6 separate regions of the Homo sapiens genome follow, and all the other regions are linked to region 6. The links come from fine-mapping of genetic effects on gene expression. A gene starts in region 6. Each other region holds a variant in brackets. All regions are shown on one strand. Distances are from middle to middle.

Region 1 (5,313 bases), 33 kb after region 6:
GTTAGGTGCTAACCACCTGCCCAGAAGAGTGGATCTCACAGCCCAGGAACATTCCCAAGCAGGAAAACCGTCCGTCCGAGGAACGTCCATCCTGGCTCTCTGCGGCTGGTGGGAAAACACACCCTGCCCTGAGGGGCTGTCCAGGCCTTCTCCCCCACACCCTCAGGCCGAGATCCGTGAGAGACCCACTTTGCTCCAACAACTTGAAACAAGTCACTTTACCCTCCTTAGGACCCATTTTGGGGGGGAAAAACCAACACATTCCAGAGCTTTCCAAGTCCTTTGAACTTCAGGTTCACATTCAGGGATCACACAGTTCTGCCTGTTCTCAGGGCACAGCAACTGCCAATCCCGCTGAAGAGGCCTCCCTGGGCACAGCACAGGCTGCACGGTGCACGCATTTCCCTGAAGGCAGCCCCTTCTTCGGAAGCAGCTGTTCCAGGCCTCGGAACAGGGCCTGGGTATCCGCGTGGTGGGCTGGCAGCTGACGGCCTGCTCAGTGGAGCCAGGAGCTAACTCAGACCCCAAAGCAAGCAGGGGGCCAGTGGCGGGGCCCAGCGCCCAGCAGGACACCCATGCAAGAGGCTGAGCCCCCCAACATCCAAGGACAGGAGAGACATGGAGTGGCGCTGGACAGTCACGACAAGGACTTGCCTCCAGCACTGGACACACCTGTGTTAAGACCAGCCCTCTGCTTCCCAGTCCCGCCAGCCTGGGGCATCCTCCATGGGCTCAGCACTGAGAGGTCTTGGGTCTGCCACGTTCTCTAGCTCTCCAGTCACCCACTCATCCAGGGTAGGAGGGGTTCTCCCTGCCCCCCGCCGTGGCCTTGGGATCTCACCCTCTCCATGTCCTGGGGACAGCCTCGCCCTCAGCCGGACTGCATCCCTCCTGGGCCTGAGCCTCGGGACTCAGTGGACACCAAAGTCAAGACCAGCACCCACCACGGGCCCTGCCAGCCTCTGCCTTCCCCAGCTGGCCTGGGTTCTGGCCTGGGTGAGGATCTGGAAGCTGTTGGCAGGACTCAACCAAGCACTGCTCTCTAGCTCCAGGGCACTAAGCCACAGGAGGCAGCGCCCTGCAGCCTCCCGTCCACACTGCCAGCAATGCCCCTGGCCCAGTGAGCCCAGACGCTCCTCCACCCCTTCCAGACCAAGCTCAACGCCTCCAAGACCAGCAGGCCAAGGCCAAGCCCTGCCCCAGATCCTCATAGGCAGAGAAGCCCTTCTGACATTTCCCCCAGGAGGCAGGGGGTGGTCTGAGTCTCCTCACAGCAGAGAGACCCACCGGAGCCCCCTCAACTTTGCAGATGCCCACCTGGAAAATGGGCTGAGCTGCACCAGACCCTCACACACCACAGCACTGCAAGCTGATGGAATGTTCCAGTTATGATGGACACTTCGTGATCTGCAATGACTGTTGATTCAGCACATTAGCATCTGACACAGCCAACCTGAATACTTCCTGCCCCAGGCGGTCAGGGTTATGGCACGATGCAGGTGGCACTCAGGGGCTAACTTCAGGCTGATGAGTGTGTGGGGTATGGGGCAGCAGAGGCAGCCAGCCAGCAAAGAGGGGCCACTGAGCACCAGGGCCCTGGTGGAGGCTGCTGTGGGACGGTCAGGCCACCACCGCAAAGAGGCAGCCGGAGCTTCTGCACAGGATGTCCCTGGCCCCAGGTCCTGCAGCACCTTAGTCCATACTACCAGCCCCACCCACCTTCCTTCCTCTTCCCTCTTCTAGGACACAGGCTGTGGACCCCTTCAGGTGCACTATAATGGGGCTGGAGGGGCCCCCACATCTCTCAGCCCCACTAATGCAGAATCCCACTACCCGTGAGCTAGAAGGTGCTCAGAGGCCAGGGGTCTCTACTGCCCATGCCGGGCGGCCTTCCAGTCATTGCACAGCAAAGCCATGTGCAGGGCGTCCCCCTCAACCCTGCCCTGAACATGCCCCAGGGCACTGAGGGGCGAAGCCAGTGCTTGGGCTCTGCTGCTGGGAGTCTCTGGTCTGTGTCTGTGTGTGCCTGTAAGTGTGAAATAAACCTCTCTGATGGCAGCAAGCCTCTCACTTGTTGTAGGACTGCAAGACACTGGACCGAAAGCCTCCAACACAAACCCTAGCTGCCAACCTGCTCATTTCTTAGGTTTCACTGGTGAGAGCAGCTTTAACACACAGGCCCAAGGCACTACGGTGCACCTCACAGGCCAGTAAGAAACAGGCCCTTTAACTGGAGATTTTAAAGGTTACAGGTTATAGCTTTAACTCCTTCTGAGACAGCATCCATTTCTCAAGAGGCCTGAGCAGGAAGCTCCGGGAGAACCAAGCATGCGGAGCTGCTCAGGGACGTCCAC[T/A]GGGAAGCCTGGTGTCCACTCCCACCTGCTTGGGCCCTGCAACTGGGGTCCCTGGAGCTGGCCAGGCTGTGGGGCGCCAGAGAGCACAGCACCCTAGTGACCAGCATGGAGCTTCTGGACCGGGTGAGCTGTCTTGAGCCTCAACCACCCAGGTCAGGAGGTCTGGGAGGCCACATGCCTCCGGCCCTCCCTACCCGGACAAGTTCAGGGCAAAGTCTCAGCCGGGGGGTGGCCCCGCAGGACGTCGAGGTCCAGCATCACGGAACCCAGCAGCCCACGGCGGAAAGTCTGCAGGAAGTCACGGGCTGCCGCAGGATAGTTAGGCTGAATAATGTTCACGTTACCTGGGGGACGGGAGGGTTCAGTGAGGAAGGAGCCTTCACAGCAGGACAGGCCCAGCCCTTACCCACCTGAGGGACCAGCCCTAAGAGGCTCCATGATGGCATCAGGGAAGCCCAGGGAACGGGATCACACTCAGAAAGAAAACAGCTTGAGCTACGCTGCCCGGAGCCTCCAAGGCCAGGCATGTGAGGCCTGCAGGTGTCCACCTAGCACTGCCCAATACGCGGCAGGGCTGGTCTCACCCTCGGAAGCCTGGACTACAAGCCCTTCCTCTCCAGAACTTTCTGTAGCTCCCCTGCCCTGAAACCCATTCCCAGAAGACCCGGCGCATGCTCCTTGACACGTTCCTCTCCTCCCTGCCTCCTCCAGGGATGGCCGGGGTCCCCCAGGGTGATGGGGTGAGGCTCCGGTGCCCGCATCAGCGACCTCACTCACCCGTGCCCGTGAGCACCTTCACCTTCTGCGTCTTCCCCAGCTTCACAGCCACACTCTTCAGCACGCGCTCTACGTTGTCACAGGCACTGCCCAGGCCGTAGTGCTGCACGTACCTGCACATAGGCTGCAGGTCAGCACCAGGGGGCCCAGCACTGACACCGCGCGGCCAGCCAGGCCGGGCCCTTCCTCCTGAATGCCACAAAGGCCACGGCCAGGCACCTCCTGTGGGTGACAGTGACTGCGGCGCTGTGGATGACCAAGATGAGACTGCAGGTGACCGGTGCTGGGCCCCGGGGGAGAGCCACTATCTAAGAATCATCCCTGAGCTTCGTCCTGTGTGGCCACGGCCAGCAGCATGGGGGGCGGCTCCCACCACCGGAGCCCTTGCCGCAGCGGGAGGAGTAACAGCTGTTCACACACACAGGCTTCATCCACTCTATCCGGGGTAGGACAGGCAGGCCTCTGTGCAGGCCCAGGTCCTGGAAACTAAAAGAGGAGCACAGCAGACCATCTGCAAACATACTCTGTTTGCTGCTAAGGATGGCACTCGGTAACTTCCAGGCAGCCAGTACACCTGCATCCTCTCCACCCGGCTGGGTGTTTGAGCGGTGTTTTCCTAGCACAGGGACCAGCATGGGCTGACTAGGCACCCACCGCTGCTAAGCGTCACCCAGTGATTGTAACGGGCACTCTGACTCCTCACAGTGCAGGCTCTGGGCAGAGAGGCCTGGAGGGAAAGGCCAGCACAGAGCAGCCACTCACAGGGACAAACACCACCCTAAGCCTTGGGAGCCCGACTAACCCAGACCCAACACTCTCCCAACCTTCCTGACAGCCAGGGGTGAGGGGAACCTGTCTCGTGGCTCCCACGAGGGCAGGCTCAACCTTGAGGAGGCTGGTGCCCTCGGACCTGGTCACAGCATGAGCCGGTAACAGAGGACTCACCCCAAGGCCCAGCAAAGCAAGACATGAGCTCAGAGCCCATAGGAGCATCAGAACCCTGAGTAACACAGGTTCTAAATCTAACTTCTCGGAGGCACCAAGCATGAGCTCTGAATCAGCAGCCTCAAGGGTGCCCTGGTGCTCCAAAAAAGCTGTCCCAGGAGAGAGGAGCAAGCCTGGAGGAGGCGCCCCGGACCACCCCCGAGACCTGCCAATGGGAAGAACTCCTGAAAGGACCGGACTGTTTCCAATAATCTAACTGTCCCACAACAAAGCTCAAGAATTTTTACAGGAATGTAGATATCCATCACCTAACAAGGTGAAACTCAAAATACATGGCATCCAGCCAGGCATGGTGGCTCACGCCTGTAATCCCAGAACTTTGGGAGGCCAAGGTGGACGGATCACTTGAGGTCAGGAGTTCGACACCAGCCTGTTCACCAATATGGTGAAACCCTGTCTCTACTAAAAATACAAAAATTAGCCAGGTGTGGTGGCACATGCTTGTAATCCCAGCTACTTGGGAGGCTAAGGCGGGAGAATCGCTTGAACCCAGGAGGTGGAGGCTGCAGTGGGCTGAGATTGTGCCACTGCACTGTAGCCTGGCTGGGCGACAGAGTGAGATGCCATCTCAAAAAAAAGAAAAAAAGAAAGTCATTGGTAGCTTGATGGGGATGGCATTGAATCTATAAATTACCTTGGGCAGTATGGCCATTTTCACAATATTGATTCTTCCTACCAATGAGCATGGAATGTTCTTCCATTTGTTTGTATTCTCTTTTATTTCATTGAGCAGTGGTTTGTAGTTCTCCTTGAAGAGGTCCTTCACGTCCCTTGTAAGTTGGATTCCTAGGTATTTTATTCTCTTTGAAGCAATTGTGAATGGGAGTTCACTCATGATTTGGCTGTTTGTCTGTTATTGGTGTATAAGAATGCTGGTGATTTTTGTACATTGATTTTGTATCCTGAGACTTTGCTGAAGTTGCTTATCAGCTTAAGGAGATTTTGGGCTGAGACAATGGGGTTTTCTAGATATACAATCATGTCATCTGCAAACAGGGACAATTTGATTTCCTCTTTTCCTAATTGAATACCCTTTATTTCCTTCTCCTGCCTAACTGCCCTGGCCAGAACTTCCAACACTATGTTGAATAGGAGTGGTGAGAGAGGGCATCCCTGTCTTGTGCCAGTTTTCAAAGGGAATGCTTCCAGTTTTTGCCCATTCAGTATGATATTGGCT
Region 2 (5,313 bases), 380 kb after region 6:
TGAGGGCCTCGATGGGCCGGTACGTCCATCTGCCCCGGGTGTGGCCCCCAGCGGTTGGGCCCCGGCTGTCTGGTGACTGTGGTGTCCGGCCCCCTCGGCAGTGTGCACCGTGCGCCATCTGTGCCTGGTGGTGATGGACGTTGCCCAGAGAAGCACATCTGGATTTCAGCCGCGAGTGGTTCCCGTGGCCTCGCATCTGCCGGGCAGGTGCCCCTTCCTGGGTCCACTGCGCCCCCCTTAGAGGCTGGGGTGTCTTCACTCAGATCCGAGATTGCAGAACAATGGAGGAGTTGATCTCTGAAATTGCTCCTTGGGCCTCCTAATAGGTGACTAGGTGACTGGCCTGTGCGGATGGGCGAAGTCCCACGGAGGATGTGAGCCGGGTGGGCGGCCCCAGAGGAGAGACAGGCACAGAAATAGCTGTGGCTCAAGTCACCAGGGACAGGCACTCGCCTGAGGCAAAGGAAGGGAGGAGCAAGCAGGCAGGGTGTCCTGGAGGAGGCGGCTTTGAAAGATGAATAGGAACCAAGAGGAGAGGAGAGAAGTCGTGGGAAGGGCCCAGGGCAGAGTGACGAGGAACGCCAGCGAGTCAGTGAGTGGTGAGGGCCTCAGGGCCAGCTCCTCCGAGCCTCAAAGGCCAGCGGGCAGAGATAGAGAGAGAAATGAGGTCAGAACAGAGCTTCTGGTCGGGCGCAGGGCCTCACACCTGTGATCCCGGCACTGTGGGAGGCAGAGGTGGGAGGATCACTTGAGTCCAGGAGTTCTAGGCCAGCCTGGGCAACATAGCAAGACGCCATGTTTACATAATAAAAGATGGAAAGATTCGCCAGGCGTGGTCGTGTCTACCTCTATTAGCAGCTACTCCGGAGGCTGAGGTAGGAGGATCTCTTGAGCCCAGGAGGTTGAGGCTGCAGTGAGCTGTGATCGCCCCACTGCACTCAGCCTGGGTGAGAGGGTGAGATCCTGTCTCTAGAAGAAGAAAAGCTGTGCTCTCAAAGATTCCCCAGTGCAGGGTGAGCTGCTGGTGGAGAGGAGCCTGGGGCTGCGGGGAGACCTCCTCGGCACAGGGAGGTCAAACATCCCAGGGCGTGGCTTCACCTCTGCCCCCTGACTCTGCAACCCAGGGCCCCCCGACTCTGCAACCCAGGTCCCCCCGACTCTGTACCCCATGGCCCCCTGACTCTGCACCCCAGGGCCCCCTGACTCTGCACCCTGTGGCCCCCTGACTCTGCACCCTATGCCCCCTGACTGCACCCCAGGGCCCCCTGACTCTGCACCCTACGCCCCCTGACTCTGCACCCCCGGGCCCCCTGACTCTGCACCCTATGGCCCCCAGTCTCTGCACCCTACGGTCCCTGACTCTGCAGTATGGCCCCCTGACTCTGCACCCTGCGCCCCCGACTCTGCACCCCAGGGCCCCCTGACTCTTCACCCTATGCCCCCTGACTCTGCACCCTGCGCCCCCGACTCTGCACCCCAGGGCCCCTGACTCTGCACCCTATGCCCCCTGACTCTGCACCCTATGGCCCCCTGACTCTGCACCTTACAGCCCCCTAACTCTGCACCCTACGCCCCCGACTCTGCACCCTACGGCCCCCTGACTCTGCACCCTACGGCCCCTTGACTCTGCACCCCAGGGCCCCCTGGCTCTGCACACTACGGCCCCCTGCCCTCCCACGCCTGCCCTGGGCAGAGGCGGGCGAGGTTCCTCACACTGCTCCAGGAAAACATGGACATCCTCTGTAAACACAACAGAACGCCAAGTACATCTCCCAGTGCTTCTAGAAAAACGTCGGCCGCCTTCCCACCCCTTCCTTCGCTCCATTGAGGTCACTCATGGGACAGGGTTGGTGTGAGCACCCCAGAGGCCTGCCTGAGACCTGCTGACGGCCCCTCGGCCTCCCCGCCAGCTTCCCAGCTGTGGGTCCCAGGGTCTGAGGCCTCCCACAGCAGCTGGCAGGAGCTGGAACCAGGCCCGGGGCGGCCGATCCGCGGGGGTTGGGCCAGCGAAGGGCACGATGAGGTTTCTCCAAAGGTCCTTGTGCGCCATGACCACACGGAGCCCTTGGGGCCGGCCTCACTCAAGACATAAGTGAATGTGTTTATTGGTTTTGGTCTGAAACAGATGAAAAGCCACCAAAGGGTTTTGCAATAATTAAAACCCAGCCACGCCGGCCGCAGGTGCTGTTTGAGAGGCGGCATCCACAGAGAGGAGCTCTCTCCTGTCTCCCCACAGAGCCCGAATCTGCTTCTGCATGAGAGACAGGAGGCTGTAATTGCAGAGTTAATTAAAAGAATAAAGTGATGACAGCCCCAGGGGCTGCAGAGAACTCAGGGAAATGGCAGATTTGGGACTCAGGGCCCAGGCTCAGCTGCACAGTTGGGGCCACAGGC[C/T]GGGATTTGGCCCCCACACACCCAGGGGGAGGCTTCTCTGAGCACTGGAGCTGCCCAGAGCACCGGGTGTGCCGGGAGCCCGGGCAGATGGCGGGGCCAACCCTCATCTCAGGGCCAGTCCTGGTGGCAGCCAACGGGGACCTCACACCAGCGTGATCTGAACAGGGTCAGCACTTGCCAGCCACCTTCGGGTGATGTGGGGCAGACCCCTGGGTGGCTGTTCCCAGGACACAGAGAGCTGACAACCCACGGAGCAAAGAGACCCCTTCGTGCACCCCAGCGCCGGCTCACTCTCAGCCGAGTTCTCAGGGCTTCTGCTGCGCCATGCTGTGGCCAGGGGAGGGCGGGGCCTCTCGTCTGTGTGACCATGGATGCTTGGACTGGATACTTGCCCAGGTACAGGTGCCCTGCCCCTTGGTGCAGAACATTCTGGAACCTCTCCCAGCTTTCAGCCAATGGGCTAAGAAGCCGCACAGCCCTCCCATTGCAGAGCAAACCCACAGCCAGCCAAGGTGTGAGGTGCAGCCAGCGTCGTGGGGCCAAGTGGAGCCATTTTGTGAAGGCCAAGAAGGTCCAGTGTCCACCTGCCAGGCTGTGCAGGAGACCAGGGTGCCCCTGGCCTCTGCCCCAATGGCTTGATGCCGCTGCCTCCCTCCACCCAACCATCTGTCCCTGAGCGAGCCTGGCCCAGGGTCATGGCCAGCACTTGATGAGTGAAGGCGGCTGGGGGTGGGAGCAGGGGGCTCCGGGAGCAGGCTTTCTAGCACACATGACACGTGTCTGCTGCTGTGGCCAGCACAGTGCTGGGGATGGGGGTGGGGCAGGCAGGCAGGGGCTCACAGCTCTGCTCTTCACTGTCCCAGGAGGAAGGTCCAGCATCTCCCAGGTGGTCCCACTGCAGCACATCCCAAGCTAGGACGGGGAGAAGCGGCCCAGTCCCCACCCCCTGGCCCGCACCAGGCCACAGCACCCTGAAGTGTGGGGCAAAGCCTCCCGCTGTGTATCCGCGTGCCCATGTGTCCATGCGTCTGCCTGTCTGTGTGTGTCTGTCTTTCACACACACCCACGCTGACCGGCTCCTGCAGGCTCTGGGAACCGCAGGCATTTCGGGACTGTTCTGTCACTGCCTTTTGCATCCTTATTCAGTAATGGCCATTTTTAGAAACAGCACTAAACCTTTCATTTCTTTACATAAAACCAGAATAATTTTCACAAAGTAGTTGAGGAAGTCCCAAACACATTTGTTTTGTTAACCTAATTTGTATATTTATGATACTTAACCTCATTTAAGAGAAAGTTACTGAGAAAACATTTGTTCTCACAGTTTTCTCCTCCCTTTCTCAGTGGTTTCCATGAAGCGAGCTGCTCTGGCGTCTGAACCCAGCGTCTGCGCCTGCACAGTGCGGTCTTCTGAGCCCAGCTGCTGCCGCGGAGTCCCCCCCTCTAGAGTCCGGCCTGAGCTCTGATCCAGGAGGAGGGAACGGAAAACCCTCCTCCAGCTCCTCTGCTTCTTTGTTACTTATCAGCTAATGTTTCTTTGCGGGGAGCTTAAAACATGATTTTGTTCCTAATATTTCATCCAGTTTTGGAATTTCTATAGAACAACTTCTTTATGATGTGGATCCGTAAATGTCCGCCCCGTGTGTCAGTATTCACAGGCATAATGAATTCCGGGGAAAAATAAATGCTTAAGGCTGGACCGCTGCTCCTTGGAACCAGCCTTCCTCTTTTTTTGAAGGTGAAACCATCCTGTGTTCCTTTCCCTCTGTTGCCCTGTCCATTCTCCAGCCATCTGTTTGTTCGTTCTTCCTCTTCTTGTCCATGCCTGCCAACCACCACCCACCTATCCCTGCACCCACCCATCCACCCACTCATCCATCCATCCCCCACCTACCCCTCCACCCCTCCACCCCTCCACCTCTCCACCCATCCACCCTCCACCCATCCACCATCCACCATCCACCCATCCACCCATCCACCCACTCATCCATCCATCCCCCACCTACCCCTCCACCCCTCCACCCCTCCACCTCTCCACCCATCCACCCTCCACCCATCCACCATCCACCATCCACCCATCCACCCATCCACCCACTCATTCATCCAACATCCATCCATCCATCCACCAACCATCCACCCATCCACCCTCCCCCATCCACCATCCACCCATCCACCCATCCATCCACCCATCCACCATCCACCATCCACCATCCACCCATCCACCCATCCACCCACTCATTCATCCAACATCCATCCATCCATCCACCAACCATCCACCCATCCACCCTCCCCCATCCACCATCCACCCATCCACCCATCCATCCACCCATCCACCATCCACCATCCACCATCCACCCATCCACCCACTCATTCATCCAACATCCATCCATCCATCCACCAACCATCCATCCATCCATCCTCCCCCATCCACCCACCCATCCATCCACCCATCCACCCTCCCCCATCCACCATCCATCCATCCACCCATCCACCCACTCATTCATCCAACATCCATCCATCCATCCATTCCCCACCTACCCCTCCACCCCTCCTCCCCTCCACCCTCCACCCATCCACCCACTCATTCATCCACCCATCCACCCTCCACCCATCCACCATCCACCCATCCACCCACTCATCCATCCACCCATCCACCCTCCATCCATCCACCATCTATCCACCCATCCACCCTCCCCCATCCACCCACTCATCCACCCACTCATCCATCCATCCATCCATCCACCCACCCATCCACCCACTCATCCACCCACTCATCCATCCATCCATCCATCCACCCACCCATCCACCCACTCATCCACCCACTCATCCATCCATCCATCCATCCATCCACCCATCCATCCATCCATCCATCCACCCTCTCATCCATCCACCCGTCCACCCTCCATCCATCCACCATCT
Region 3 (5,313 bases), 44 kb before region 6:
GAAAGAGGCACAATGCCTAGTGGGCCTATTTGGATTTTGGAGGCAACACATTCCTCATTTGGGTGTGTTACTCCAGCCCATTTATTGAGTGACCTGAAAAGCTGTCAGTTTTGAGTGGAGTCCAGAACAAGAGAAGGCTCTGCAGCAGGTCCAGGCTGCTGTGCAAGCTGCTCTGCCACTTGGGCCATATGGCCCAGCATATCCAATGGTGCTTGAGGTGTCAGTGGCAGATAGGCATGCTGTTTGGAGCCTTTGGCAGGCTCCCATAGGTGAATCACAGTGGAGGCCTCTAGGATTTTGGAGCGAGGCCCTGCCATCTTCTGCAGATAACTACTCTCCTTTTGAGAGACAGCTCTTAGCCTGTTACTGGGCTTTGGTGGAAACTGAACGTTTGACTGTAGGTCACCAAGTCACCACGCGACCTGAACTGCCTATCATAAACTGGGTGCTTTCTGACCCATCTAGCCATTAAGTGGGTTGTGCACAGCAGCATTCCGTCATCAAATGGAAGTGGCACTAGGGAAATGACCACAGGATGGAAGTGGTATATATGTGATCAGGTTCCAGCAGGTCCTGAAGGCACAAGTAAGTTACATGAGGAAGTGGTTCAAATGCCCATGGTCTCCACTCCTGCCACCCTTCCTTCTCTCCCCGAGCCTGCCCCAACGGCCTCATGGGAAGTTCCCTATAATTAGTTGGGCCTGGTTCGTGGATGGTTCCGCATGATATGCAGGCACCACCCAAAAGTGGAGAGCTGCAGCACTACAGCCCCTTTCTAGGACATCCCTGAAGGACAGTAGGGAAGGAAAATCTTCCCAGTGGGCAGAACTAAGAGCAGTGAACCTGGTTGTGCACTTTGCATGGAAGGAGAAATGGCCAGATGTGTGATTATATACTGATTCATGGGCTGTAGTTAATGGTTTGGTTGGATGGTCAGGGACTTGAAAGAAGAATGATCGGAAATTGTGACAAAGAAATGTGGGGAAGAGGTATGTGGATGGACCTCTCTGAGTGGTCAAAAACTGTGAAGATATTTGTATCCCATGTGAGTGCTCACCAATGGGTGACCTCAGCAGAGGAGGATTTTAATAATCAAGTGGATAGGATGACCACTTCTGTGGACACCATTCAGCCTCTTTCCCAAGCACCTCTGTCATTGCCCAATGGACCCGTGAACAAAGTGGCCATGGTGGCAGGGATGGAGGTTATGAATGGGCTCAGCAATATGAGCTTCCACTCACCAAGGCTGATCTGGCTATGGCCACTGCTGAGTGCCCAATTTGCCAGCAGCAGAGACCAACACTGATTCCTCGATATGGCACCATTTCTCAGGGTGGTCAGCCAGCTACCTGGTGGCAGGTTGATTATATTGAACCTCTTCCATCATGGAAAGGGCAGAGATTTGTCCTCACTGGAATAGATACTTATTCTGGATATCGGTTTGCCTATCCTGCACACGATACTTCTACCAAGACTACCATCTGTGGACTCATGGAATGCCTTATCCACCATCATGGTGTTCCACACAGTATTGCCTCTGACCAAGGTACTCACTTTACGGCCATAGAAGTGCAGCAGTGGGCTCATGTTCGTGGAATTCACTGGTCTTACCACGTTGCCCATCATCCTGAAGCAGCTGGATTGATAGAACGGTGGAATGGCCTTTCAAAGTCACAATTGCTGTGGGTGGCAAGCCACCCAGGTGCCAAGGCAAGAGACCGAGGACACGAGCTGTTCCAGTATAATAAAATATAAAATAAGAATAGTTATACCAGAGATAGATCTTAGATATGATTATATATGAATATCATTAATCATTAGTAGCAATTACTCTTTATTCCAATATTATAATAATCCTCACTCTATAATCATAAACTAGGAAAAACCAGGCCATACAGAGATAGGAGCTGAAGGGACATAGTGAGAAGTGACCAGAAGACAAGAGTGTGAGCCTTCTGTTATGCCCAGACAGGGCCACCAGAGGGCTCCTTGGTCTAGCGGTAACGCCAGCATCTGGGAAGATGCCCATTGCCAAGCAGACCGTGGTCTAGCAGTAGCGTT[A/G]GTGTCAAGGAAAAACACCCGCTACTTAGCAGACCGGGAAAGAGAGTCTCCCTTTCCCCAGGGGAGTTTAGAGAAGACTCTACTCCTCCACCTCTTGTGGAAGGCCTGACATTAGTCAGGCCCACCCACAGTTATTCGGAGGCCTAACCGTCTCCCTGTGATGCTGTGCTTCAGTGGTCACACTCCTAGTCTGCCTTCATGTTCCATCTTGTACACCTGGTTCTGCCGTTTAGTTAGCAGTAGCAAATTAGTGAAAGTACTAAAAGTCTCTGATAAGCAGAAATAATGGTGTAAGCTGTTTCTCTTTCTCCTCTCTCTCTCTGCCTCGGCTGCCAGGCAGGAAAGGGCCCCCTGTCCAGGGGACATGTGATCCATGTGGCCTTCCCTATCATTGGAGATGGCCCACACTCCTTATCCTGCCCCTTTGTCTTGTATCCAATAAATATCAGTGCAGCCTGGCATTCGGGGCCACTACCAGTCTCCGCATCTTGGTGGTAGTGGTCCCCCGGGCCCAGCTGTCTTTTCTTTTATCTCTTTGTCTTGTGTTTTTATTTCTACGCTCTCTCGTCTCCACACAGAAGGAGAAAATGCACCAACCCTGTGGGGCTGGACCCTACAATTACCATGTCAATTAGATGACAATACTTTGCAGGGCTGGGGCAAAGTACTCTAGAAGGCTGTGTATGCACTGGATCAGCATCTGATATATGGTACTGTTTCTCCCATAGCCAGGATTCACGGGTCCAGGAATCAAGGGGTGGAAGTGGAAGTGGCACCACTCACCATCACCCCTAATGATCCAGTAGCAAAATTTTTGCTTCCTGTTCCTGCAACATTACGTTCTGCTAGCCTAGAGATCTTAGTTCCAGAGGGAGTAACACTGCCACCAGGAGACACAACAACAATTCCATTAAACTGAAAGTTAAGATTGTCACCTGGACACTTCGGGCTCCTCCTACCTTTAAGTAAACAGGCTAAGAAGGGAGTTACAGTGTTGGCTAGGTTGATTGACCCAGACTATCAAGATGAAATCAGTCTACTACTCCATAACAGAGGTAAGGAGGAGCATGCATGGAATACAGGAGATCCATTAGGATGTCACTTAGTATTACCATGCCCTGTGATTAAGGTCAATGAGAAACTACAACAGCCCAATCCAGGGAGGACTACAAATGGTCCAGACCCTTCAGGAATGAAGGTTTAAGTCACTCCACCAGGAAAAAAACCTTGATCTGATGAGGTGCTTGCAGAAGGCAAAGGGAATACACAGTGGGTGATAGAAGAAGGTAGTCATCAATACCAGCTACGACCACATGACCAGCTGCAGAAATAAGGACTGTAAAAAGTATTAACCCTAGGTGAGTCTGTGTGGGTGTTGCCAAAGGAGATTTGAGTCAGTGGGCTGGGGAAGGCAGACCCACCCTTAATCAGGTGGACACCATCTAATGAGCTTCCAGCAAATATAAAGCAGGCAGAAAAACATGAAAAGGCAAGACTGGCTTAGCCTTCCAGCCTACATTTTTCTCCCATGCTGGATGCTTCCTGCCCTCAAACATCAGACTCCAAGTTCTTCAGTTTTGGGACTTGGACTGGCTCTCCTTGGTCCTCAGCTTGCAGACAGCCTATTGTGGGGACCTCGTGATCATGTTAGTTAATATTTAATAAACTCCCATTTACATATATACATATATATATACATATATAATATTTATCCTATTAGTTCTGTCCCTCTAGAGAACCCTGACTAATACAGATTTTGGTACCAGGAGTGGGCTGTTGTGTTGCTGAAAAGATACCCAAAAATGTGGAATTGACTTTGGAATTGGGTAACAGGCAGAGGTTGGAACAATTTGGAGGGCTCAGAAGAAGATAAGAAAATGTGGGAAAGTTTGGAACTTCCTAGAGACTTTGCCCAAAATGCTGATAGCAATATGGACAATAAAGTCCAGGCTGAGGTGATCTCAAATGGAAATTAGGAACTTGTTGGGAAGTGGAGCAAAGGTGACTCTTGTTATGTTTAACAAAGGGACTGGCAGCATTTTTCCCCTGCCCTACAGACCTGTGGAACTTTGAACCAGAGAGAGATGATTTAGGGTATCAGGTGGAAGAAATTTCTAAGCAGCAAACATTCAAGAGGTGATTCAGGTGCTGTTAAAGGCATCCCATTTTATAAGGAAAGCACAGCATAGAAGTTTGGAAAATTTGCAGCCTGACAATGCAATAGAAAAAGAAAATCCCATTTTCTGGGGAGAAATTTAAGCCAGCTGCAGAAATTTGCATAAGTAACGAGGAGCAGAATGTTAACTCACAAGACAATGGGGAAAAGACATGCCTCTCCAGGGCATGTCAGAGGTCTTCACAGCAGCCCTTCTCATCACAGGCCTGGAGGTGTACAAGATAAAAATGGCTTCCTGGGCTAGGCCCAGGGTCCCCATGCTGTGTACAGCCAAGGGACTTGGTGTCCTGTGTCCCAGCTGCCCCTAGCCATGACTAAAAGGGACCAAGGTAAAGCTCCAGCCATGGCTTCAGAGGGTGCAAGCCCTAAGCCTTAGCACCTTCCACATGGTGTTGAGCCTGTGGGTACACAGAAGTCAAGAATTGAGGTTTGGGCACCTCCGCCTAGATTTCAGAAGATGTATGGAAATGCCTGGATGCCCAGGCAAAAGTTTGTTGCAAGCGCAAGGCCTTCATAGAGAACCTCTGCCACAGCAGTGCAGAAGGGAAATGTGGGGTCAGAGCCCCCAAACAGAATCCCTAATGGGGTAACCACCTATTGGAGCTGTGAGAAGAGGGCCACCATCCTCCAGACCCCAGGATGATAGATCCACTGATAGCTTGCACTGTGTGCCTGGAAAAGCCACAGACACTCAACACCAGCCCATAAAAACAGCCGGGAGGGAGGCTGTATCCTGCAAAGCCAAGGGGCGGAGCTGCCCAAGACCATGGGAACCCACTTCTTGCATCAGTGTGACCTGGATGCGAGATGTGGAGTCAAAGGAAATAATTTTGGAACTTTAAGATTTAACTGCCCTGATGGATTTTGGACTTGCATGGGGCCTGTAGCCCCTTTGTTTTGGCCAATTCCTCCCATTTGGAATGGCTGTTTTTGCCCAATGCCTGTACCCACATTGTATCTAGGAAGTAACTAACTTGCTTTTGATTTTACAGGGTTGTAAGCAGAAGGGAGTTTTCTTGTCTCAGATGAGACATTGGACTGTGGACTTTTGAGTTAATGCTGAAATGAGTTAAGGC
Region 4 (5,313 bases), 23 kb before region 6:
TCTCTGGGACCTGTCCGCTTGCTCGCTGTCCTGCTGAGACTCTCTGGGACCTGTCCGCTTGCTCGCTGTCCTGCTGAGACTCTCTGGGACCTGTCCCCTTGCTCGCTGTCCTGCTGAGACGCTCTGGGACCTGTCGGCTTGCTCGCTGTCCTGCTGAGACTCTCTGGGACCTGTCCCCTTGCTCGCTGTCCTGCTGAGACTCTCTGGGACCTGTCCCCTTGCTCGCTGTCCTGCTGAGACTCTCTGGGACCTGTCCCCTTGCTCGCTGTCCTGCTGACACTCTCTGGGACCTGTCCCCTTGCTCGCTGTCCTGCTGAGACGCTCTGGGACCTGTCCGCTTGCTCGCTGTCCTGCTGAGACTCTCTGGGACCTGTCCCCTTGCTCGCTGTCCTGCTGAGACTCTCTGGGACCTGTCCCCTTGCTCGCTGTCCTGCTGAGACTCTCTGGGACCTGTCCCCTTGCTCGCTGTCCTGCTGACACTCTCTGGGACCTGTCCCCTTGCTCGCTGTCCTGCTGAGACGCTCTGGGACCTGTCCGCTTGCTCGCTGTCCTGCTGAGACTCTCTGGGACCTGTCCGCTTGCTCGCTGTCCTGCTGAGACTCTCTGGGACCTGTCCGCTTGCTCGCTGTCCTGCTGACACTCTCTGGGACCTGTCCGCTTGCTCGCTGTCCTGCTGAGACTCTCTGGGACCTGTCCCCTTGCTCGCTGTCCTGCTGAGACTCTCTGGGACCTGTCCGCTTGCTCGCTGTCCTGCTGACACTCTCTGGGACCTGTCCGCTTGCTCGCTGTCCTGCTGAGACTCTCTGGGACCTGTCCCCTTGCTCGCTGTCTTGCTGAGACTCTGGGACCTGTCCGCTTGCTCGCTGTCCTGCTGAGACTCTCTGGGACCTGTCGGCTTGCTCGCTGTCCTGCTGAGACTCTCTGGGACCTGTCCGCTTGCTCGCTGTCCTGCTGAGACTCTCTGGGACCTGTCGGCTTGCTCGCTGTCCTGCTGAGACTCTCTGGGACCTGTCCCCTTGCTCGCTGTCCTGCTGAGACTCTCTGGGACCTGTCCCCTTGCTCGCTGTCCTGCTGAGACTCTCTGGGACCTGTCCGCTTGCTCGCTGTCCTGCTGAGACTCTCTGGGACCTGTCCCCTTGCTCGCTGTCTTGCTGAGACTCTGGGACCTGTCCGCTTGCTCGCTGTCCTGCTGACACTCTCTGGGACCTGTCCGCTTGCTCGCTGTCCTGCTGAGACTCTCTGGGACCTGTCCCCTTGCTCGCTGTCCTGCTGAGACTCTCTGGGACCTGTCCGCTTGCTCGCTGTCCTGCTGACACTCTCTGGGACCTGTCCGCTTGCTCGCTGTCCTGCTGAGACTCTCTGGGACCTGTCCCCTTGCTCGCTGTCTTGCTGAGACTCTGGGACCTGTCTGCTTGCTCGCTGTCCTGCTGAGACTCTCTGGGACCTGTCGGCTTGCTCGCTGTCCTGCTGAGACTCTCTGGAACCTGTCCGCTTGCTCGCTGTCCTGCTGAGACTCTCTGGGACCTGTCCCCTTGCTCGCTGTCCTGCTGAGACTCTCTGGGACCTGTCCGCTTGCTCGCTGTCCTGCTGAGACTCTCTGGGACCTGTCCCCTTGCTCGCTGTCTTGCTGAGACTCTGGGACCTGTCCGCTTGCTCGCTGTCCTGCTGAGACTCTCTGGGACCTGTCGGCTTGCTCGCTGTCCTGCTGAGACTCTCTGGGACCTGTCCGCTTGCTCGCTGTCCTGCTGAGATTCTCTGGGACCTGTCCGCTTGCTCGCTGTCCTGCTGAGACTCTCTGGGACCTGTCCGCTTGCTCGCTGTCCTGCTGAGACTCTCTGGGACCTGTCCGCTTGCTCGCTGTCCTGCTGAGACTCTCTGGGACCTGTCCCCTTGCTCGCTGTCCTGCTGAGTCGCTCTGCGACCTGTCCGCTTGCTCGCTGTCCTGCTGAGACTCTCTGGGACCTGTCCCCTTGTTCGCTGTCCTGCTGAGACTCTCTGGGAAAGTTTGCTGTTGGCAACTTTGCTGCAGAAAGCACATAATTAAGATGTTAACATGGGTCCCTGCGCCCAGGGAGAATCAGAGCATTAACCCTCCACTCTGCGAGGGAGTCAACAAGCCCAGCGTCACTCACCCCCGAGGACAGTGCTCCCTGCCGGCCTGCAGCGGGGCTGGCATCACAGTAAATAACAAAAATGCAGCAAGAGCCTCTCATTGCTTTGATTTTAAACATTTCCTCCATTATTCCAGCACACAGAAGCTCGTGGTGTGCAAGTGTGTTTGGCCCCCGAGGCAGGTGGAGACCACATCAGTGACCTGGGCACAAGATTCTGGGTCGCGGAGAAGGAAAACCACCCAGCAGGCATGGGCTTTATGGAGAGTTAGCGTCAGGACAGCACAGGTTTCACCTGCAGAGGCTGTGAGGGGCACTCTCCAAAGGGAGGCATGTGGGGACATCAGGGCAGTGAGTGGCTCCAACTACCACCAGGCCAGACTCCAGCTCTTTTGGCCAGGTGACCTCAGCTGTCAGATTTCAGCTGTAGGTTGACCTGGCCACAGCTCCTTAGTAGAAACCATGACTGCGGCCCTACCTCAGCCACCCCAGGCCGCTCCCTCAGGAGGGCAGACTCCATGCAGAAGCGGGCATGGACTGGCCATTCCTGTTCCTGGTCTGGGTGGGAGGTTTGTTCCATCAGGGGGTGTCAGGCTGTGTCCGAGACTGGATACAT[C/T]AAAGAAAGGCACAGACCCAGCCTCGGTGCAGCCCCTAATCCAGTGCCTCCACTCAACCAACCTCACATACCTCTCCCACCACCCATCTCTGACCACCTAGCCTCCTCGGGCAGGACAGGCCCAGCCCAGGGCAAGGAGAGGCGGCTTAGTCAACATCAGAGGAAACAAGGCCAAACCCACTTCCTTCCCAGCCCAGGAGGCACCCAGCCCAGGTAGTCTTCAACCCAGGCAGCCTTCAGCTGCAGTCCTCAGCCCAGGCAGTCCTCAGCCCAGGCAGTCCTCAGCCCAGGCAGTCCCCCCAGCCCAGGCAGTCCCTCAGCCCAGGCAGTCCTCAGCCCAGGCAGTCCCCCCAGCCCAGGCAGCCCTCAGCCCAGGCAGTCCCCCCAGCCCAGGCAGTCCTCAGCCCAGGCAGCCCTCAGCCCAGGCAGTCCCCCCAGCCCAGGCAGTCCCTCAGCCCAGGCAGTCCTCAGCCCAGGCAGCCCTCAGCTCAGGCAGTCCCAAAGACCTCCTGGCTGCCCAGTCTGAGGCCCGAAATCCATCCTCCATCACAGGAGCCCCATTTGCCTGTGAAACCAAGGGCAGGTGGAGCCTTGCACCAGATTCACAGGAAGCTTCCAGGCCCCTCTTACAGATCCTGATCTGCCTTAAAGGCCAAACCACGGGGCTCCGGCTTCTTGCTCACCTGATCGAGGGCACAGATAGGGCACAGTGCAGGCCCACAGAGGTTCCCAGGCACTTAGAGTTTCAAACGGAAACCCTCAACACAACAGCAAAGCAATTTCAGCAACATTTTTTCCACATTAATGTAGGTCAGGGCAGGGTAGAATCAGATCTGACTTTTCAAAAACATTGAAAGGAAAATTAGGTGGGTCATCCATGTGGAAGGCAGGCATGGAGGGTTGCAGCCACTCACTGAGTGAGGAGTGTGGCTAGGCCAGCTCCTGTCTAAATGGGAGCCCACATGTCCATGGACATGATGGTGCCTCAAGGCTGACGCCCGTCTCTTCCCAGTCAGTGTCTCCTGTGTTTGATGCTGACCTTTGAGTGAAGTCTGTCCCCTCGGGGTGGATGCTGAGGTTGCTACAGAGGCCCACGTGTCCCCAGGAGCGGCTCTCAGGGAGCAATTACCCCACTCGGAGGTAGAAAGGGGTCCCCATGGGAACCGCCCCCAGGCTCGAGCAGAGACAGGCCAGGGCACCTGCAGGGCTTCTGGGTGATGGACCTGGGGAGATCAATTCCAGAGCTGGTGGCTTCTCCCCAGCACCTCTGCCCTGGGCACACAAGGGCCATGTGCAACCCTCCCTGCAGGAGGATGGAATTTTATTTAAATAGACTTAATCTTTTAGAATAGTTTTAAATTTGCCCCCACCCAGTTTCCCGTTACTGACATCTCCCATTAGCATGTGTTACATTAATGTGCCAGTATCGATCCTATACTGTCAACTGCAATCCATGGCTGATTCCCAGTTCCTCCGTGTTCCCCTAACGTCCTTCTGTCCACATCACAGTTAGGAGTTTCCTTAGGCTTCTCTTGACTGCAGCATTTTCTCAGACTTTCCTTGCTTTTGATGAACTTGGTAGTTTTGGAGAATATTGGCCAGGTATTTTGTATCTTCCAGGTATTCCCTTGACTGGGATTCGCCTGATTATTTTTTTACTCATGATGAAAGTTACGGGTTTTGGGGCGGAAAGACACAGAGGCACGTGACATTCTCATCACACCACACCGGGATGCACACTGTCAGCATGTCTGGCTGTTGATGTGAACTCGGGAAGGTAAATATTTTCATCACAATTCTTATGTGCCCATCCAGACGCTGAGGTGGCCTGCAGTGTCCAGGGAGACACTGTCCTGACTTCAAGGATGGAGCATCCAAAGGGTCTGAGGAGACTAAGAGTCTTCTGGCAGGCTGAAGCCCAGACCCCCACTCTGCACTCAGCAGGCCTGGCCACGTAGATGAGGCATTGTGAGCCCATGGGGGTTGACTCACTTCCTTGTTTGGGCCAAAGGCCCACAACTGATTGGTAAAGCAGTGTAGGTGGTCACAGCAAGTGCCCACAGGTAGAACTGAGATGATAATTGTGCTCAGGAGAAACCTAGCAATTTATCTTAGAGACCAAGTGCAGAAAATAAGACATGGAGAAAACAGTCATTGCAAAAGAACCAGAGACGTGGCCATGGCTGATTTAAAGTGCTTCTTAATTTCATCACAGGAAGACAACTGGCCCCTTTAATTTTCCAAACCTTCTAACATCCTTCAACTCAATCAATCGGCACATGTTTTTAATCTCTGGCCAATGATTATCTATTTTCCATGACAGTATATGTAATAGCATTTCAGCAACCCAAGATTTGAACACTTCCTCTAATTTATTCAAATGTGTTATAACCTTCAGCTATGCCGGATTTTCCTAATCAAACACACCACTTTTCTTTAAAAATAATGTTGATTTATAAAAACATTCAGTATCAAAGGTCACTGCAACACTGATTTAAGGTTATTTCATGGCCCACAATAAGTAACCATATTTGTAGCATTTAAACCTCAAAATCCAAGCTAAGTGGTAAGATGTGGGAGCACCTG
Region 5 (5,313 bases), 54 kb before region 6:
GAGGAGAGTATAATAAAAATGACACGCATCTACTATCATTAAACAGAAGTCTCCATACTACTTTCCGTTCTTTTATTTTTCAAAATCATCATATGTAAAATAGACTTCTTTTCCTTTGGTGTACAGATCTATGAAATATAATGCTATTATATGTATTATATATATTATATTTATAATATAGAGTATATTTATTATATTTATTGTAGTATATATTATATTTTATGTAACTCCCACCATAAACGGGTACAAAACAATTCCCTCAATGCAATTATTTATCAGTTCTAGTAGTTTTGATGTAGTCTTTATGGTTTTCTGTACGTAATATCATGTCATCTGCAAACAGGAACCGTATTATTTCCTCCTTTCCAATCTGGATGCCTTTTATTTCTTGCTCTTGCCTAATTACTCTAGCTAAGACTGACAGTAGTACTACGTTGAATGGAAGTGGTGAGAGTGGGCATCCTTGTCTTGTTCTTGATCTTAGATGGTTTGACGCTTGTCTATAGTGATATGCTTTGACTATTTTCTTCTTATCTTTTGTGTATCTACTACAGATTTTTGCTTTGTGGTTACTTGAGGCTTGCAGAAAACATCTTATGTTTATAACCAGCTATTTTTAAGCTGATAAAAGCTTAATTTTGATTGCATAAATAAACTCTACATTTCTACTCCCCCACCTCATATTTTATGCTTTTGATGTCACAATTTATATCATTTCATCATTTGTATCTCTCAACAGATTATTGTAGCTATGGTTGTTTTTAATTGCTTTATCTTTTAACCTTTGTACTAGAGATAGAATTGTTTTACAGAAGACCATTGCCTGATTACTAGTTTGAATCTGACAATGTACTTACTTTTACCAGTAAGTTTTTTATTTTTGTATTTTTATCCTATCAATTAGTATCCTTTTAATCCAGCTTGAAGAATTCCTAGAATTTCTTGTAAGGCACATCTAATGGTGATATCCTTCCTCGACTTTTGTTTGTTTGAGAAAGTCTTATTCTTGCCTTCATTTTTGAAAGATAGTATTACTAGGTATGGTATTCTTGGGCAGTAATTTTTTTTTCTTTTAGGATTTTGAATATATCATCCAGCTCCTTCCTGGCCTATAAAGTTTCTGGAAAAAGAAAATCCATGGATATCTTACACGGTGGGCATCCCTTTTGTGTAACTATTTGCTGTCCCTTGTTGCTTTCAAAATTCTCTCTTTGTCTAAATTTTTAACAATTTGATTATAATATGTCTCAAATGTGTGTCTCTGGATTTTTCCTATTTGGTGTCATCTGAGTTTCCTGAATCTTGATTTCAATTTATTTCCCTAAGCTTGGGAGGTTTTTCCCCATCATTTCTTTGAATATGTTTTGTGTCCCTTTCTCCCTCTCTTCCTCCTGGTCTACCAATTCTGAATATATTGTTCTGCTTGTTGAAGTCCTGTAAGCTATCTTTTTCATTCTTTTTACTTCTAGGATTGGATTATTTCCAATGACATGTCTTTAATCTCACTGGTTCTCTCTTTCACTTAATCTGGTCTGCTGTTGAACACCTCTACTGAATTTTTCAGTTCAGTTATTATATTCTTCAGTTTTATAATTTCTATTGGCCGCTTTTGAAATACTTTCTATCTCTTTTTTGAAATTATTTGTTTATGCATTTTTCTCCTGACCTTAGTGAACATCTTTATGACCATTATTTTGAATTCCTCATTGGGTAGATCATACATCTCCACTTCACTAGGGTTGGTTTCTGCAGATTTATCTTGATCTTTTATTTGGAACCCATTTCCCTGTTTTTCTATTTCCTTTGTTTCTCTGTATTAGTGTCCGTGCATTACATAAGACAGCAGCCTCTCCCAGTTCTGTCAGACTGTGAGACTCCCAGTTCTGTCAGTGTAGGAGAAGGCCCTCACCAATTGGTCCAGAGATTCTGAGGTGCCTCTTAAATCCTGGTTTGTCCAAACCACTGTCTCTGATTTTAGTGCCCCCCGACTGCCCACCGTAGAATTTTACAATGTGCCAAGTCCTGTCA[G/A]TGCCTTGAGATAGGTAAGATAGAAACTAGATGCAGTTGGAAAGATTGGAGTGTTAAATATATGTTCCAGTTTCTTCTTTGCTCAGGGTGAAGCTAAGAGCAAGAGTTTATCTCCCACTCTCTATGCACTATGTCAGAAGAAGGATCTGTGACAAGTGTCTGCATTTTCATGCAGAATGCACCCTCTGATAGTCACTAGAAGTTGGATTGTTGAATGTACACTTCTTTATTTTCTGTCGTCCACGGAGACTCAGAAATGCAGAGACCCACCAATTCCCAAAGTTAGGTGGTTAAGGAGGCACTCCTCCGGGTGGGAGCTGTAGAAGTTGTGGCACTTGGTGCACAAACTACTTCTAAAAGGAATCTACAGAGCTGGTTTTATCACTGGGGTGAGGTGGAGGGAAAGGCTTGGGAAGTGCCTGAACTCTCATTCAGAATCCTGGAGGTCTATCGTTTGTCGGCCCTGTTGGCTCCCAGATGCAGGCTAGATAGGAGCCTGATCCTTAAGCAGTAACTGGAAAATTGTGCAGACTAACCCCTTCCAGGGAGAAACTGGAAGGCGTGTATTTAACCTCTTGTCTGCATTGGTCCTTGCGGGTGTAACTCCTATAAGTGCTTGCATGCCCATTTTTTTTCTTTCTTTTTTTTTTTTTTTTTTTTTTTGAGACGGAGTCTCACTCTGCCGCCTAGGCTGGAGTGCAGTGGTGCAATCTCGGCTCACTGCAACCTCCGCCTCCTGGGTTCAAATGATTCTCTTGCCTCAGCCTCCCGAGTAGCTGGGATTACAGGCATCCGCCACCACACCCGGCTAATTTTTGTATATTTAGTAGAGACAGGGTTTCACCATGTTGGCAAAGCTGTTCTCGAATTCCTGACCTCAGGTGATCCACCTACCTTGGCCTCCCAAAGTGTTGGGATTGCAGGCGTGAGCCACCGCGCCCAACCTTGCCTGCCCATTTAAAACTACCTCTTTGTACCGTAATCTAGGGAGACTAGCAAATGCCAAGACGCTTTCATTCCCAGAGTTAGACAGTTTAGGATGCAGTCTTTTGGGTGGGAGCTGTAAAAGTTGGGGCAGTCAGTGTGTGGACAAACCTCTTCCAGAAAGAATGGGTAGATCTGGATATATCACAGGTGAACCACAGGAGAGGAGAAGGCTTAAGATGTGCTGAGCTACTGCTTAGCCTCCCGGAGGGCTATACACTAGTCCCCCTTATCCGTGGGTGATACAGTCCAAGACATTCTGCAGATTCCTGCAGCTGTGTATGGCACCAAACCCTATATATACTGTGCTTTGTTTCCTATACATACCTATGATGAAGTTTCATTTATAAATTAGGCACAATAATGAAGGAAACATAATAACTAATTATAAAATAGAACAATTATAACAACATATGGTGATAACAGTTATTTAAAACTTACAAACTGTCTATTTCTGGAATTTTCCGTTTAATATTTTCAGACTGCAGTTGGCCATAGTTAACTGAAACTTTGGAAAGAAAAACCATCAATAACAGAGGAATATTGTAGTTTGTCAGCCCGGTTAACTCCCTAATTCAGGCTAGTTAGAAGCTCTGCTGTTAGCAGAAGTTGGAGGAGTATACCAACAAACTCCTTTTAGGGTTTTGCTACTTTGTTCTGTGGTCTAGGGAGACTTGTGTATGCCTAGTCCCTTCCACTACCAGAGCTAGGTGAATTAAAAGTCAAACCATGGGAACCTTGGAGCTAGGGTCATATACATGTGGTCCATACCCTTCTCTCCTCAGGGAGAAGTTATGTGTTGGGAGTTTTTCCTGGTTTATGGTGCAGTACCCAGGGTGATATTTGTGCCTGCGTGTGCCTCAGCTTTTTCTACCTGCTTGATGTGAATATTTTCTCAGTTGTCTGCTGTGTAAGAGACTCTCAACTTTTTCTGACTTTCTCTCAAAGAAAATTTATCCATGTGTAGGTGTTTATTCCACGTGTCCATGGGTGGAGGGAGAGGTAGAAGTCTCCTGTGCCACCATGTTGCTGATGTCACCTCCCAGTAAAGTTTTCTAAAACAAATTACTTGACCATAAAGCCCAGAACAACAAGAAGTGAATCAAAATAAAACTTAGACAATGGGGTTTTCTAGAAATACAATCATGTCATCTGCAAACAGGGACAATTTGATTTCCTCTTTTCCTAATTGAATACCCTTTATTTCCTTCTCCTGTCTAATTGCCCTGGCCAGAACTTCCAACACTATGTTGAATAGGAGTGGTGAGAGAGGGCATCCCTGTCTTGTGCCAGTTTTCAAAGGGAATGCTTCCAGTTTTTGCCCATTCAGTATGATATTGGCTGTGGGTTTGTCATAGATAGCTCTTATTATTTTGAAATACGTCCCATCAATACCTAATTTATTGAGAGTTTTTAGCATGAAGGGTTGTTGAATTTTGTCAAAGGCTTTTTCTGCATCTATTGAGATAATCATGTGGTTTTTGTCTTTGGCTCTGTTTATATGCTGGATTACATTTATTGATTTGCGTATATTGAACCAGCCTTGCATCCCAGGGATGAAGCCCACTTGATCATGGTGGATAAGCTTTTTGATGTGCTGCTGGATTCGTTTTGCCAGTATTTTATTGAGGGTTTTTGTATCAATGTTCATCAAGGATATTGGTCTAAAATTCTCTTTTTTGGTTGTGTCTCTGCCCGGCTTTGGTATCAGAATGATGCTGGCCTCATAAAATGAGTTAGGGAGGATTCCCTCTTTTTCTATTGATTGGAATAGTTTCAGAAGGAATGGTACCAGTTCCTCCTTGTACCTCTGGTAGAATTCGGCTGTGAATCCATCTAGTCCTGGACTCTTTTTGGTTGGTAAGCTATTGATTATTGCCACAATTTCAGATCCTGTTATTGGTCTATTCAGAGATTCAATTTCTTCCTGGTTTAGTCTTGGGAGAGTGTATGTGTCAAGGAATTTATCCATTTCTTCTAGATTTTCTAGTTAAGCTGATAAGCAACTTCATCAAAGTCTCAGGATACAAAATCAATGTACAAAAATCACAAGCATTCTTATACACCAATAACAGACAAACACAGAGCCAAATCATGAGTGAACTCCCATTCACAATTGCTTCAAAGAGAATAAAATACCTAGGAATCCAACTTACAAGGGATGTGAAGGACCTCTTCAAGGAGAACTACAAACCACTGCTCAAGGAAATAAAAGAGGATACAAACAAATGGAAGAACATTCCATGCTCATGGGTAGGAAGAATCAATATCATGAAAATGGCCATACTGCCCAAGGTAATT
Region 6 (5,313 bases):
GCAGCTGGGTGGGTCCTCCCACCCACTCTCTGCCTCCCAAGCATCATTCCCCTACTTCCACTGGAGGCCCTGTGGTCTCCAGCCCACCACTGTCACACCTGCCCCACCCACGTGACTGTCCACACCCCTTGGAGTGCCCCGCTCACCCTTCGGTCCTGTCCTCTGCAACCCTGAGTATCCAGGAAAACCACCCCTGCCTGCCCTCCCACTATGCCAAACCCAGCCCCACTACCCCACCCATACCGGCTTCCAGGCAGGATCTCACCCTCCGGTCTCTGAGCATCTCAGCTACTCCAGCACCTTCTCTCCCACCCGCCACGGAGGCACCCCTAACCACCCTCTCCAGGCCTCTGCAACCCCACATCAACACAGCCACCCCGAGGAAAATGAAGCAACCAGTAGGAGGAAGTCCATGTGGGTGGTGCTGTGTGGTCCCAGAGCAGCCTCCAGGGCCCCTGGAGGACTCTCCACACCCAGAAAAGAGCCTCCCCGATGGCAGTCAGGAGCAGAGGGGGGACCCTGCCTGGTCCAAGATGAAGACCTTTCCCTCCCACCTCCTGGGGAGCCTTGAATCTCCTCTCTCTCAGTCTTCATCCATCCCTCCACACCCCCCAGCCTCCTCATCACCCTCCCCACCTGGTTCTTCTCAGGACATGGATGCGTGCTGGTGTCTGCAATTTTTTCTTTTTTAGACAAAAGTCTCGCTCTGTCACTCAGGCTGGAGTGCAATGGCACGATCTCAGCTCACTGCAATGTCCACCTCCAGGGTTGAACTGATTCTCGTGCCTCAGCCTCCCATGTAGCGGGAATTATAGGCGCCCACTACCACGACTGGCTAATTTTTGTATTTTTAGTAGAGATGGGGTTTCACCATGTTGGCCAGGCTGATCTCGAACTCATGACCTCAGGTAAACTGCCTGCCTCAGCCTCCCAAAGTGCTGGGATTACAGCCATAAGCCACCACGCCCGCTATGAATAGCTTTTCATTTTATATTTTCTAAAGCTATTTCTTGTTGTAATAGAGAATTCCGGCCCTTGTGCATGCGATCGTTGACACAAAAGCAAATCCCTTCAACCCCAGGCTTCCATCCATCTGTGGCCACATTGCTGCCTTTCCTTCAAATCCTAACCTCCTCTGCACTTTCTGCAGCTGCCCACAGACTTCCACCCCACCGCTGGGGATGTGGCTCCGTCCAGCACCAGGTCACCGCCCTGCTGGGCACCTGGACCAGCCTTGACAGTGAAGTGTTCCTCAGCCTCAAGGGCACCCTCCCCTGCCTCCCGCCCAGCCCCACACTCACATCATGGCTCCATGCCCACGTACGCAGGTCCCCGGGGCTCCCTCTCACCTCCAGCCTCTCCTGCTGTTCCTTCTAGCTAGACCCCCCTCTCTACACCTCCCTGCCCCTGACCCAGCAGCCCTTCCACATGGCTTCACACCCCAGTGTCTCCACCTGGGTGCAGCATCTCCATGGGACCCCATGCTCAACCTCACTGCCAGATGCAGCCAACCCTCCCACCTCCTTCCCAGGACCTCAGCCCTGCTCCAGGGCACGTGGATGGAGCAGCCCCCGCAGGACCCCTCAGGACTCTGTTGATCAGGGTCATTGGGACCAGACACTGGGCCGTGTCCCTCATTTTGTCCAGGGCCTGACCCAGCCCTGAACCCTGGGTTCCAAGCAGTGGGGCTAGGGTCTGGGGGCCCTGAGGTCACAGGGATCCAGCCATGTGGAGTCACCTCCCTCCTGCCCCAGCATGTCCCACCCACTCTGGGCTGAGTGAGACCCAGGCAGACGGCAGGTCACTGCAGGGACCCTCATGCCCCGGGGCCTGGGCATCAACAGAGCTGATGCCTCCAGAAAGTTCCATGGATGAAGGAAGCAGAAACTTACCAATGGGGACTGCCCAGAGATTCAGAAGAAGGGGCCCGAGTCCCAGGGTCCAGAGAGCTGCCCTCATGGTCCCACAGCCCTCTGGGCTTCAGCAAGCTCTCGCTGCTTAGCTGGGGCAATGGCAGAGGTCACAGCCCAGAGTCACATATACAGAAGTGGGAGCTGCCAAGGACCTCCAGGGTCCAATGGGGACAGCCACAGCCTTTCCAGAGCGAATCAGCAGCTCTGCCTCTCAGCCGTGAGCAGAGCAGCCAATGCCTTGCTGGCCTGAGCATCACCAGACATGGGGAGGGTGCAGGCTGTGGGTTTCCTCCCACACTGATCAAGCTGCTGATGGGACTAGACCCAACCATCAGGCAGAGATGGTCCAACCTGCCCACAGCACAGCATCAGTGAAGCCCTGCGTCTCTGCCCTCCACCCGGGCCCGTCGGCTTCAGCCATGCCACCACCACAGAAGGCAGTGGCCCCAGACAGCCAAGGAGGCGTCCTCTGTGCCAGCAGATGGCACTAGCAGAGTTAGGGGTAGGGGTAGGATTAGGGTTTGAGTGGGAGTCCCAGCAGCACCAGAAGAATGACACGGAAGAGCTTTGCAAGAACTCTGAGAACTGAACTGTCGTTGGAATGAAAACCCTTGAGAGAAGATACAGTTAAGAATCACTCATCATATGAAGACCCAGGGACACGACCATTTCAGTAAGAGACAACCAACTAAGGGCGGCACCAGGAAGAGTCAGGTGTCAGAATTATCTGACAAGGATTTTAAAACAGGCATCATAAAAATGTTTCCACAACAAATTGCAAATGCTCTTGAAATAAGTGGAAAAATTGAAATCTCAGCAAAGAAATAGAAGTTATAAAAATGGAACAGGCTAGGCGCAGTGGCTCACGCCTGTAATCCTAGCACTTTGGGAGGCTGAGGTGGGCAGATACCTGAGGTCAGGAGTTCGAGACCACCCTGGCCAACATGGTGAAACCCTGTCTCTACTAAAAATACAAAAATTAGCCGGGCAGGGTGACATGCACCTGTAGTCCCAGCTACTCGGGAGGCTGAGGCATGAGAATGGCGTGAGCCCAAGAGGCGGAGGTTGCAGTGAGCTGAGATTGCACCACTGCACTCCAGCCTGGGTGACAGAGCAAGACTTTGTCTTAAAAACAAAATGAAACAGTGGTAAGGATGTAGAGAAATGGGACCTCTCAGATTTTGCTGGTAGATTCAAAAATGGTGCAACTGCTTTGAGAAAGTTTGGCAGTTTGTCAAAATGTTAAACAGAGATACTCCTGGAAGATACCACTTGAGCCCAGAAGGGGCAACTCCACTCTTGGGTACATATCTAAGAGGAATGTAAACTTATGTCCACACAAAAATCTCTACATGAATGTCCATGCAGCATTATTCATAATAAAGATGAAAACAGCTCACGTGTGCATCCACTGATAAATGGAGAAACAAAATGCGGTATGTCCACATTATGGAATGTCACTCAGCCATAGAAAGGGAACAAGGCACCCACACAGGCTGGATGTGCGTCAACCTTGAAAACATGCTCAGTGAGAGAAGCCAGATGTAAAAGACCACATACTGGGTACGATTCCATTCATATGAGATTTCCAGAATAGGCAAATCAATAGACAAGGAAATTAGATTCATGGTTTCCAGGGGCTAGAGAAGGAGGAAAGAGAAAATGACTGAAAATAGTATAGTGTTTTTCTTTTTTATTTTTATTTATTTATGTATTTATATATTCATTTATTTATTGGGAGACAGAGTCTCACTTTCTCATCCAGGCTGGAGTGCAGTGGCATGATCATAGCTCACTGCAGCCTCAACTTCCTGGCCTCAAGTGATCTTCCTACCTTAACCTCCTGAGTAACTGGGACTATAGGTGCATGCCACCATGTCTGGCTAATTTTTTAAATTTTTTTGTAGAGATGGAAAGCCTTGCCATGTACCCAGGCTGGTCTCAAACGCCTGGCCTCATCGGACCCTCCCACCTTGGCCTCCCAAAGTGCTGAGATTACAGGTGTGAGCCACCACAGCCAGCTACAGGATTTCTTTTTCAGGTGATGAAAATGTTCTGAAATTAGTGGTGCTGGTTGCATAATCCTGAATATACTAAAATCCTCTGCACCACACACTTTAAAAGAGTGCATTTATGATACATGAACCTCAATTAAATTGTTTTTAAAATAAATGATTACAGAACTGAAAATATAATAACTGAAATGTTAAAAACTCAATGAACGGACTAGTAGAATGGAAATGACAGAGGAACCAGTGAACCTGATGATACTTCAATAGAATTTACACAGTGCAAACAACAGAGAGAAAATAGAAAAATTTATAGAGCCTCGGGGATCTGTGGGACAATAATAACAAGACTTAATCTTTGTATCTGGGAAATTCAGGAAAGATAAGAGAGCGTATGGGGCTGAAAATGTATTTAAAGTAACAACTACTAAATATTCTCCAAATATGGTGAAAGGCACAAAACTACAGATTCAAGAAGCTGAGAAATCCAAAATAAGATGAATTCAAAGACATTCACACCAAGACACATCATAATTAAACGTTTGGAAACCAAAGGAAAAAAAAATCCTAAAAACAGCCAGACAAAAAGGATTGCACTGACTATAAAAAATGGTAAAATGTGAATTACAGCTAATTTCTCGTCTGAAATGGAAGCAAGCAGGAAGTGCCTTATTTTTAATTGACATGTAAGAATTGTACATATTTATGGGATACAGAGTGATACTTTGATACATGTGTGCAATGCATAATGATCGAATCAGGGTAACTACCAAACCCATCAAACATTTATCATTTATCTGTTGGGAACATTCAAAACCCTCTCTTCTAGCTATTTGAAAATACACAACAAGTTATTTTGAATTATAGTCACCCTACAGAGCTACAGAACACTGGAACTTATTCCTCTGTAACTTTGTATTTATTAAACAACCTCTCCCTATCTGCTTCTCCCCTAACCCTTACCAGTCTCTAGTAACTCTAATTCTACTCTACTAATATGAGGTCAATTTCTTAGTCCCGACATGTGAGTGACAACTAGCAGTATTGCAGTATTGATATTTTTGTACCTGATTTATTGCACTTAATAGAATGTCCTACATGCACACACTGCCACAAATGGCAAGTTTTTTTTTTTTTTTTTGAGATGGAGTTTCACTCGTGTTGCCCAGGCTGGAGTGCAATGGTGCAGTCTCGGCTCACTGCAACTTCCGCCTCCCAGGTTCAAGCGATTCTTCTGCCTCAGCCTCCCAAGTAGCTGAGATTACAGGCACATGGCACCACGACCAGCTAATTTTTGTATTTTTAGTAGAGACAGGGTTTCGCCATGTTGGCCAGGCTGGTCTTGAAATCCTGACCTCAGGTGATCCACCTGCCTTGGCCTCCCAAAGTGC

Evidence for each region.
Region 1: its variant is fine-mapped to the expression of SCART1 in whole blood (TOPMed, PIP 0.94).
Region 2: its variant is fine-mapped to the expression of SCART1 in cerebellum (GTEx, PIP above 0.99).
Region 3: its variant is fine-mapped to the expression of SCART1 in whole blood (TOPMed, PIP above 0.99).
Region 4: its variant is fine-mapped to the expression of SCART1 in whole blood (TOPMed, PIP above 0.99).
Region 5: its variant is fine-mapped to the expression of SCART1 in whole blood (TOPMed, PIP above 0.99).

What each region holds. Positions count from the first base shown.
Region 1 is chr10:133,417,411-133,422,723 of GRCh38, reverse strand. MTG1 (mitochondrial ribosome associated GTPase 1) reads right to left here. Exons shown (of 11, transcript NM_138384.4): 10 at 3,132-3,244; 11 at 204-2,698. The coding sequence ends at 2,559. It overlaps SPRN (shadow of prion protein), which reads left to right. Exons shown (of 2, transcript NM_001391974.1): 2 at 1-2,058. Among named protein-coding and RNA genes, the nearest start is that of SPRN, 4.6 kb to the left of the region's middle. The variant T/A (reference allele first, on the strand shown) is at 2,355.
Region 2 is chr10:133,065,812-133,071,124 of GRCh38, reverse strand. No RefSeq gene overlaps it. Among named protein-coding and RNA genes, the nearest start is that of ADGRA1-AS1, 18 kb to the left of the region's middle. The variant C/T (reference allele first, on the strand shown) is at 2,395.
Region 3 is chr10:133,494,247-133,499,559 of GRCh38, reverse strand. The region is part of intron 4 of LOC105378575 (a long non-coding RNA gene); the gene reads left to right. Among named protein-coding and RNA genes, the nearest start is that of CYP2E1, 30 kb to the left of the region's middle. RefSeq lists a silencer at 1,958-2,037. The variant A/G (reference allele first, on the strand shown) is at 2,062.
Region 4 is chr10:133,473,612-133,478,924 of GRCh38, reverse strand. No RefSeq gene overlaps it. Among named protein-coding and RNA genes, the nearest start is that of SCART1, 22 kb to the right of the region's middle. The variant C/T (reference allele first, on the strand shown) is at 2,728.
Region 5 is chr10:133,505,053-133,510,365 of GRCh38, reverse strand. LOC105378575 (a long non-coding RNA gene) reads left to right here. Exons shown (of 5, transcript XR_946512.3): 4 at 1,077-1,153. Among named protein-coding and RNA genes, the nearest start is that of CYP2E1, 20 kb to the left of the region's middle. The variant G/A (reference allele first, on the strand shown) is at 2,029.
Region 6 is chr10:133,450,644-133,455,956 of GRCh38, reverse strand. SCART1 (scavenger receptor family member expressed on T cells 1) reads right to left here and starts at 2,012. Exons shown (of 12, transcript NM_001396050.1): 1 at 1,893-2,012. The coding sequence starts at 1,959. RefSeq lists an enhancer at 2,238-2,287.